Linked DNA regions of Homo sapiens: regions 1 and 3 are each reported to be linked to region 2. The links are microRNA targets in miRTarBase. Many come from high-throughput screens and were not tested one by one. Region 2 holds a microRNA gene; each other region holds the end of a gene's coding sequence.

Region 1 (3,340 bases), not on the chromosome of region 2:
GAAACGCAGCAGTTCAGTAAGAGGTGGTTGTCTCTGATAATACGCGGAAAGGGGTGGCCACCTCCAGCACTCAGGCTTTGATGGGTGGGCACACCCATTCAGTCACCCAGCAAGTATCTGTGAGGACCTACTGGGTGCTGGGTGGGCCCTGCTGTAAAACTCCAGCCGCTACAGGGGTCAGGCTTGATCTCTCCTCCCCAGCTAATAATCAAATAGTGGCTACCATTTAGTTTACACAGAATAAGCTGAAGCCTCAGAGAAGCAAAACGTCTTGCCCAAGATCCCAGAGTGAAGTTGCTTGAGGGAAGCTGCCCCACCCACCCCTTTGATTGACAAGTCAAGGCCTAGGTTTGAGCTCTAAGAGAAGGGCCACCTGTCTGGCTGGGATGCTGGCAGGACTGGAAATGGCAGGGCTGGCTGAGGATGGGGGCTGCCAGAAGAGCCCCTCTTCCTGGTGTACGGCCGTTGGGGGTAGCTGAGGTCGGTACAGTATCGATTCTGTCACCACATCCGGGGGCTGGGGCTGAGGAAGGAAGTCTGAGGCTGGAGTGAAAACCCAAACCACCACCTGGGGAACTGCATTGAGCCCAGAGGGATGGGCAGGGAGCACACCACGTGGAGCCCACGAAGGCTCCCCTTGGCGTCATCTAAGGGCCTCCTGCCCACCTGCACCCTTTTTCCTGAAGGGCAGATGACTGTCCCAGCAAAACGCTGCCATGTCCTGAGTGTCCAGACAGCGGCCTCCATCCTTTCTCGTATGTTCACTGGGGCCTGCTGGGGGACTGGGGCACAGCCCTTTACAACCCAGGAACTGGGCATTAGTGCCCTGTGGCAGAGGTGCTAGGATTACCGAGGACGCCTGGCTGGTAGGTGGTGGAAGCCTCCTCGAGACAGGAGCAGCGGTCCCCTCCGTCTCATCTGGAGCATGTGGACACCTGCTCCCTCTTTTTAAGGCTGTGGACCCAGTGAAATGCCATGTAAAGCACTCAGTACAGTAGACGTGGACCACTGAGAAGGGAAAGGAGGGACGCATCAGGACATGAGCCACGAGGGCTCGGGCACCTGCGGCACCTCCTCCCAGCATGGAGGAGCCTGCGCCCCAAAGCCATCATCCTCCACTGGCAGGTGCAGCCTTTTCCCTCCCTGCTCCTTGTGGGCCTGGGATGGGAACAGGAAGGGGGTTTACGTCCTCTGGGCACCAGCCCTTTGGCCTCGCCACCACCCTCACACATCCCAGGCGGGGCTGAGGCTTCAGCTGGACTGTCATCATAGTATCTGCTCCCCAGGGCTCTACCCCTGGGGAGGGAGCACTTAGGGACAGAAAGGGCACAAGGAGATTCGGTCCAGTGCCTCCACTTCTCTCCACCCACACCCCACCCAAGCTCTGGGCCCGTCTCCGGCCCCTGCTGCCCTACCACAAAACCCCAACCCATCATATCCCCTCTCTCCAAACTCCACCCAACCCAGGCAGAGCCGGTCACTCCTCCCCCAAAGTCCCCAGTGCCCTCAACAGATGGCACCGTCACCCATCTTACTCCAAAGGGTTTATTGAGACAAGTTTTCACATACAAGATGGGGACAGAGGGGTTGGGGCTTATAAACAGGAACCTGGAAGGGGACCGAGGGTGCAGGGTAGAACCAAACAAGAGAGTGAAATAAATAGAGGGAAAGAGTGGAGACAGGGAGGAGACTGACTGAGACCATCACACAGTGATAATGCGGGTGGGGCGGCGCCATGAAAATCCCGTTATTTATACAGATATACAGGGAGTTCAGGGGGACCCGAGGCCCACTCCACCCTCCATGCCCCAGGGAGGGGCACAAGAAAGCCGTCTCTACCCATGGGCGACCCCATGGGGCGCTGGGAGGGCTGCCCTAGGAGTGTTGGGCAATCCCTGGCCTGGAAGCCTTGGTTAGTGTCTGGAAAGCAGTGGAGAGGGCCGGAGGGGAGGGGCAGCCAGGCCGGGGCTCAGCTCTGAGGCTCCCGGCTGCCACCCTTTCTCCCAGCACAGCTCCTGCCCAGGTCTGGGAGGATGGGGGATGGGGGAGCAGGAGCTCAAGGGGAGAACCTGGCACCTTCTGGAGTCTTGGAAAAACTGATCCCTAAAGACACCCGGCCCTGGCTGTGCTGCCCTCTGGAAAGCAGCTCTGATACCAGGAGCGGCTGTCAGGGCACAGGGGGAAACCCCGAGGCCATCCTCGGGGGTGATTCCTGAAAGGGGCCCATCCCCAGGCTGGATGCTTGGGGAAGGCAGCCGTTGGGGAGGGATTCCTGGGGAAAGGGCCGTTAGCACCACCAGGCTCCATGGCAAACAGACAGAGGCCAGGCCTCTGCACCTCCAGCGAGGCTGGGAGTCCCCTGCGGGAAAGAGAAGGGAGGGGAGACTGAGCCGCCGCCTCTAGGGCGCCTCTAAGGCCTCAACCCCTCCCCTGCATGCCCAGGGCTCCCCCAGTGATTCTCACAGGACGCCCCTGACTGGACTGCGGGGCTCAGCACACCTGGCAGTACTAGGCATGGGCGTGCAGAGACTCAGAATGCGGGGTTTCTGCCCTCACCTCAGCCCCACCTGCCCGGCCCTACACCCCAGCCAGCGTGGCGGCCAGGGCAGGGCCAGGTGGGCATCATACGAAGACCTTGGCCAGGGCATCAGCGCCAGCACTGGCAATGAGGGCCTTGCTGGGGTGGCAGGCAACAGCGTGGATGGCCTCCTCGTGCTTCTTGCGGTGGGCCGTGATCTCCTGCACGCACGTTTTGTTGTCCAGGCTCCAGAGACGCAGGGAGCAGTCATGGCCTGCACATGTGTCGGGGACAGAAGGGGTGGTCACTGGGCTCCTCGCTCAGACGCAGCCCTGGAACCCCTCACCTGGCCTTGTCCAAAGGCCTCAGGGGAAGTGGGGCTCAACTCTCCTCTCTCACCCTCTGCTCATCACCTCCTGTGGCCCGCCCAAAGGAGAACCCTGGTCCCCTCCTGTCCACAGTCCATCTCATCCCCCAGCATTTCTTGAGCAGCTACTGCACACTGAGCCCCAGGGCGGCAGGGGCAGTGAACAAAACAGGCAACTCTCCCTGCCCCGCAGCACTGACGCTGCAGCTGGGCAACAGGAAGAGAAAGAAGAAAGCAACCCAGCCGGTCAGTGTGAGGACAGAATGGCCCCAGGAGGAATGCAGGGAGCCTTCCAGGCAGAAGGACAGGCGGGAAAGGTCCTGAGGCAGGAGGTGGGGGTGGCCACAAGAGCCTTAGCAGGGACTTGGGGAGAAGAGGGGAGAGGACGGCAGGCTGGGCAGGGCCCTGGCGAGGAGAAGTTTAATTTAGGGTCAAGAGGATCAGGCAGGGCAAAG
Region 2 (3,000 bases):
TCCCAGCTACTCAGGAGGCTGAGGCAGGAAGATCACTTGAACCCGGGAGATGGAGGTTGCAGTGAGCCGAGATAGTGCCACTGCACTCCAGCCTGGGCGACAGAGCGAGACTCCCTCTCAAAATATAAATAAATAAATAAATAAATAAATAAATAAATAAATAGTCGCTGTGAACACGGAATTAGCAAATACTGAACCACTGCTCCTAAGGGAAATACAAGGTTAGGCTCCCATGAGCCTCTGGCCACAATATTTTGGTCAACTGATGAATACATAACTTTGTGTTAAATGCGTTTCTGTTTCAAGACGCCTTATGTAATATATAGGGTTGACTCATTAACACTGACTTCACCACCACAAGCACTCTAACTCATCCCTGAGCAGAGCTTATCTGATGTCCATTCCCTCCTTAAGGAACATCCCAGCCTTCTTGCACTTCGCACCAGACAGCACTTCAGCACTGCCCTCAGGGGCCATTCTAAACAATGAAACCAAAAATGTGAAAAATGTGGCACTACACAAGCTGCAAGGAGGACACTTATTTATAGTATGAGGCACAGAGGCAGAGTGTGGCATTGTTCATCCTCAGCTGGGATTGCACGGGTTGGGCGACTCAAACTTTCTGCCCTTGTGTGTGTGTCCATGAATGAGCCAAAGCACGGTGAGTGCCAGCTTTGGGGCTACAGATAAATGTTAGCGAGTGGACGAATTCGCAAATGCAGAATCCGTGAATGATGAGGATCGACTGTACATGCTTGTCGGGGATGCGGATAGTAAATTAGGAAGCCTTTGGGCCCTCAACCGTCTTCTCTGTAGCCTTTGCCCTGGTTGGGAGGGTAGGGCATTTAATGCTGTCCCCTAACCCTCTGGGACTTTGGCAGGAGCTTTTCTCCGCCTCTCCCTCACCACTGCTCTCGCCCCACCGCCCCACCCCCCTGCCACCCTCACACTTGTCCCTGTGCCTGTCACTGACAGAGGGCCAAGTGCTGTCCCAGAGCCAGGCTGCTCCGTGTTTCTGACACCCATGCTAGTGTGGTCCGGTCCTTAATCACCTGAGGTTGGGGGGCTTCAGCCACATTGCAGATCACTTACGGCAAATTAAAATGAAATTCAAGGCTCCCTCCTTCCCCCTAGCCTGGCTTTCGGGCTGCCTCTCTCCCACTCAGGAGCATCCATAGAGCCTGAGCCAAAGAGAAATTTAAAGCCACAGCCGCCACTGCTACCATAAGAAAAATAAGTCAGAAAAGTGTACTTTTCCTTTCCCTTTGCTGCTTTTAAACATTATTTGCATCTTTGGGTTCTTTCCAGGACCCAACAGCAGCTACTCAGAGTCTTCTAAACCAGCAGCCTAGTGGGACCCCTGGCAGTGCAGGGGTTAACACGGTGACCTCCTTAAGCTGCTGAGGTGTCAGGTCTAATTTTATCCTATAACTGGATCTGCCAGTCCTCTTTTTTGCCCAAGTGCTGAGATATATTGGGAAGCCCAGAGTCAGCACTTTTGGTGGCTCAGGAGGCAGCGGGCCCTGATTTTTGCCGAATGCAGAAAGCTAGAGCCTCCTTGCTGCTCGGTCCCAGAGTCAGGCCCTGGGGTGTGAATGGTAACGGCCTGGTTAGTGCTGCACTGGGGCCACCATGCCCCCTCACCTCCTGCTGACTCCCACCCCGAGGTATCCTGTACTGAGCTGCCCCGAGCTGGGCAGCATGAAGGGCCTCGGGGCAGCTCAGTACAGGATGCCCCAGGGAGGATGGAGATCAGAGCCGGCCGCTGAAGCCCCCAGCACCACACACACCTGCTGGAGATGGTCGCACAGCGTCTTCATGTCCCTTCCTCATGGCACGGCACGGCACGGCATGCCCCTGCTCTGTGGCCACACTGCCCCATGCTCACACACATGCACCACAGCCCAGGCCCCGGCCCCAACCCTGACGGTCTCCTGACTTGCAGAAAGCACGTCGTCCACCCCTTAGGCCTGTCGGCTCAGCCCTTTCCTAGAAAGCAAGGGAGCAACGTGTTTCACAAAACACCAAAGAGAAGCTAAGCCTTGGCCTGGTGAGAACTGTAGCTGGGCTCCAGGTTCAAGAGACAGTCCAGTCCTCAGTCTTGGAGCTCTTATGTTGAAGCATCACAGCCCAGACCAACTCTCCTGTCCTCTTCAATGCCCTGTCCACTGCTTTCTAGATCCCCATTGCTTGGTTTCCAAGATAATATTACCACTTAGATTTACAGAGTGCTTTTACTTTTCAAAGAGCATTTTTTTCTTTCTGGCTTTTTTTTTTCTTTTTTTTGTGATGGGGTCTTGCTCTGTTGCCCAGGCTGGTCTTGAACTCCTGGCCTAAAGCAATCCTTTTGCCTCGACCTCACAAAATGCTGGGATTACAGACATGAGCCACTGTGCCCGGCCCAAAAGGCATTCTTACAAAACCGTGCGGTCCCTGATAAGTGGATATTATTAACTCTGTTTCCTTGATGAGGAAGCTGGGGTTCAGAGCCAACTGTTAGCAGGGTTGGGAAGTGAGAATCTCTGCCTCGAGACACAACAACAAGTTGTTTGTCCCACATCATGCTGGGGTGGCTGGGAGGGGATAGGGTGAGACAGGGAGCAGCCACTCCACTGAAGACCAGGCCATGCAGAGGGGATGAGAAGGGCAGCGTTACCTCCCGAGAGGCTACTCCAAGGAGAGCGGCTCGGGGTCACTGTTTCCCCCTTTTCAGGCTGGCCCGCTTCACTATCTGCGCCCCCTTCCTGCCCTCTATCAGGTCCGGCTGTAGGCCACTCCCTCTCAGCTCCACCTGCAGACAGCAGCAGAGACAGAAAGCAGGACAGATCGCAAAGACGGGCAGAACACAGGCAGAAGATCGAAAGGAGGCCACACGGAGGTGGCAGACACACTGCCCACCAGGGAGAAGAGAGACTGGAGAGAGAGCTCATAAAGAGGTGAGTGGAGGGAGGTGTCATGCAGACGGCCCGGCAGAGCAAGGCAGCAGTGATGGCGCTGGGT
Region 3 (3,340 bases), not on the chromosome of region 2:
TCTCAAAAAAAAAAAAAAAAAGCCAGCCGGGCGCAGTGGCTCACGCCTGTAATCCCAGCACTTTGGGAGGCCGACGCGGGTGGATCACGAGGTCAGGAGATCGAGACCGTCCTGGCTAACACGGTGAAACCACGTCTCTACTAAAAATACAAAAAATTAGCCGGGCGTGGTGGCGGACGCCTGTAGTCCCAGCTACTCCGGAGGCCGAAGCAGGACAACGGCGTGAACCGTGAGTGAGGCGGATCTTGCAGTGAGCTGAGATCGCGCCACTGCACTCCAGCCTGGCGGACAGAGGGAGACTCTGTCTCAAAAAAAAAAAGGCGGGGCACGGTGGCTCACGCCTGTAATCCCAGCAATCCCAGCACTTTGGGAAGCCGAGGCGGGCGGATCACGAGGTCAGGAGTTTGAGACCAGCCTGGCCAACATGGTGAAACCCCATCTCTACTAAAATACAAAAATTAGCCGGGCGTGGTGGCGGGCGCCTGTCATCCCAGCTACTCAAGAGGCTGAGGCAGGAGAATCGCTTAAAACCAGAAGGCGGAGGTGTCAGTCAGCCGAGATTAAGCCACTACAGTCCAGTCTGGGCAACAAGAGCTAAACTCCCTCTCAAAAGAAAAAAAAAAAAAAGACACAGGGGTCTTGCTATGTTTCCCAAGCTGGTCTCGAACTTCTGGCCTCAAGCAATCCTCCAGACTTGGCTTCCCAAAGTTCTGGGAGCCATCGTGCCGGCATCTTCTTGTGTTTATTACGTTTTTAAAGCAGCCCTAGAAGATAAGAACCATAACACTCCCTAGCTCCTCCTCGACACCGTCTTGCTCAACCACCTCCCGTAACTCCCTAGTATTCAATCCCACCTCCTTGGCCCCATTTATGGGCACCTGCGGTCTTCATTGCCCACCTGTGTCCTCACCTCTAACCAATTCCTTCTATGTCTGGGCTCTCCCAGACCTTGCCATTTCCTCCAAGACTTCCCTGACTGCATTCTTCAAAAAGGCAAGTCAGGTACCTTCCCTGAAGTCCTACAGCCCTCACAATCCCCCTCCCAGCCCTGACACCTCTGTGTCCAAACTGCCTTCCTGACTTCCAGGGCAAAGAATGGGCACCCAGCACACAGCAATTGCACAGTGAAGTTGCTAAGTGGAAGCTACTAAGTATTATTACTCCAACAGCAACAGAGCAGAGGAGAAACCAGCACTGCATTTTATAGGCGACAAATGCACCTCACAGTGTTAAATTCTTGCTCAAAATCAAACATCCCCAAGGGACAAGTGGAAGATTCAAACTCCTTATGGGCTGGAGTTCAAGACCAGCCTGGTCAACATGGTGAAACTCCCCTCTACTAAAAATACATAAATTAGCTGGGCGTGGTGGCATGCACCTGTAATCCCAGCTACTTGGGAGGCTGAGGCACCAGAATTGCTTGAACCCAGGAGGCAGAGGTTGCAGTAAGCAGGGATCCGACAACTGCACTCCAGCCTGGGTGACAGAGCGAGACCCTGTTTCAAAAACAAACACCCCCCCGCACACACACACAGTTTTCCACCAGTCTTCCCAGACCTATAAAATTTATGACACAGGCTGGGCATGACGGCTCACACCTGTAATCCCAGCACTTTGGGAGGCCGAGGCAGGCAGATCACCTGAGGTCAGGAGTTCGAGACCAGCCTGGCCAACATGGTTGAAACCCCGTCTCTACTAAAAATACAAAAATTAGCCGGGTGTGGTGGTGGGCGCCTATAATCCCAGCTATTCGGGAGGCTGAGGCAGGAGATTGCTTGAACCCAGGAGAGGGAGTTTGCAGTGAGCCGAGATCGTGCCACTGCACTCCAGCCTGGGGGACAGAGCGCAGTGGTTCATGCCTGTAATCCCAGCACTTTGGGAGGCAGAGGAGGGCGGATCACCTGAGGTCGGGAGCTCGAGACCAGCCTGACCAACATGGAGAAACCCCATCTCTACTAAAAATACAAAATTAGCCGGGCGTGGTGGCGCATGCCTGTAATCCCAGCTACTCGGGAGGGTGAGGCAGGAGAATCGCTTGAACCCGCAAGGCGGAGGTTTTAATGAGCCGAGATCCCCCCATTGCACTCCAACCTGGGCAACAAAAGGGAAACTGTCTCAAAAAAAAAAAAGAGTTATGACACATATAAGGCAAGTGGAACTTTGAACATTTATTACACGTTTAATAATATTTCAAAATTATTGATAATTCTTTTGGATGTGATAAGCTTTGTAATTGTCTTTTAATGAGCTCTCATCTTGGAGAGATACATTCTGAAATATTTACAGAAGAAATAATCCGATGCCTGAGATCAGCTTCAAAAGAACTCAGGATGGGGCAGGGACGGGTTGTAGGTAGTCGGTAGTCAGGGTACTGGGTACACGGATGTTCTTTGTACTGTTCTTTGGTCTGTTGCGCAGGTTCGAAATGCTTCCTAATTAAAAAGCCTAAAAAGGGACTTGGCAAGCTCCCATCCAGACTTCAACCCCACAATATGGAGAGCACTCAGGTCCGAGGCGTTCCTGCTCCCCAGCTCCCTGCAAAAATAGCGCCAGGCAAGGTCCGAGGCGAGGGCGATGCTTCCATGAGGGTCCCGCCGACTGCGTCGCGATCCTCAATGGCTCAGCGACTTGCGGCCCTTGAGCATTCGGCGAAGGATGACCTGCACGCCGGCCGGCGTGCTCAGGCGCCGGACCCAGCCGTGCTTGTTCTTGCGTTTGATGTTGCTCGGCTGATACTCATTCCCGCGAGCCTTGCCCCGGGCCTGCTGCGGGGTGGGGAGGCCCCAGGCGTCTGGGAACCCCAGCCAGGCCCGGGGCTGGAGCCACCTGCGTGGGTAGAGGGACGGCGAGAAAGGTCAGACGGGGCGCTGGGTGACCTTGGCGCTCAACCTCTCTGAGCCTCGGCTCCCGGAGACAGAGCCTGGCTGCAAAATGCGCAAGGCACTGGCAGGTCACGCGGGCAGTGAAGAGTGGCGCCAGCCTCCGAAGCCGCCCTTATTCCCTGATTTGGGGAAGGGTCCCCCTGAGGACTTACCTGCCACCCAGCAACGCTGCCGACCTACTCGTGGGGCCCAACAGGGATCCAGCCAAGACAGCCATATCCGCAGTGGGTCCCGCAGTACCGGCTGCGGGCGATTCCGGAGCCCAGAGCCGCTCCAGCCCTGGAACAAAGGATTATGGGAAATGTAGTTTCTCCTAACGTGCAAAAAAGAGGCCGTTGGGGAAAACCCTGAAGTTGTAGTTCTGCGCCTGCGCAACAGAGGCGCGCCAGTCTATATCCGCGGGGCACAGGGATGCTCTGCATACACACCAACAGGTAGCCGGCGAACGGCGCCTTCTG

Evidence for each region. The annotated mature microRNA hsa-miR-486-3p reads CGGGGCAGCUCAGUACAGGAU and lies in region 2 at 1,670-1,690, opposite strand. An mRNA with a match to its seed (bases 2 to 7 or 8) in the 3' UTR can be bound and repressed. Matches are read on the target gene's strand: a 7mer-m8 pairs with bases 2 to 8, a 7mer-A1 pairs with bases 2 to 7 and ends in A, and an 8mer does both.
Region 1: the mRNA of STRN4 is a reported target of hsa-miR-486-3p. Seed matches in the 3' UTR shown: 7mer-m8 at 1,951-1,957.
Region 3: the mRNA of MRPL34 is a reported target of hsa-miR-486-3p. Seed matches in the 3' UTR shown: 8mer at 2,332-2,339.

Annotation. Positions count from the first base shown.
Region 1 is chr19:46,717,980-46,721,319 of GRCh38, forward strand. It overlaps STRN4 (striatin 4), which reads right to left. Exons shown (of 18, transcript NM_013403.3): 17 at 2,557-2,792; 18 at 1,532-2,359. The coding sequence ends at 2,623. LOC107987269 reads right to left here and starts at 1,743. Exons shown (of 4, transcript XM_017027568.2): 1 at 667-1,743; 2 at 374-523. The coding sequence starts at 1,084. RefSeq lists an enhancer at 381-430.
Region 2 is chr8:41,658,774-41,661,773 of GRCh38, forward strand. It overlaps MIR486-1 (microRNA 486-1), which reads right to left and starts at 1,735; the gene lies at 1,668-1,735. ANK1 (ankyrin 1) reads right to left here. Exons shown (of 43, transcript NM_000037.4): 42 at 2,657-2,791. The coding sequence ends at 2,693. It overlaps MIR486-2 (microRNA 486-2), which reads left to right and starts at 1,671; the gene lies at 1,671-1,734.
Region 3 is chr19:17,305,652-17,308,991 of GRCh38, reverse strand. It overlaps MRPL34 (mitochondrial ribosomal protein L34), which reads right to left and starts at 3,120. Exons shown (of 2, transcript NM_023937.4): 1 at 3,035-3,120; 2 at 2,149-2,826. The coding sequence starts at 3,099. The coding sequence ends at 2,613. RefSeq lists enhancers at 1-126, 3,097-3,176 and a silencer at 2,807-2,866.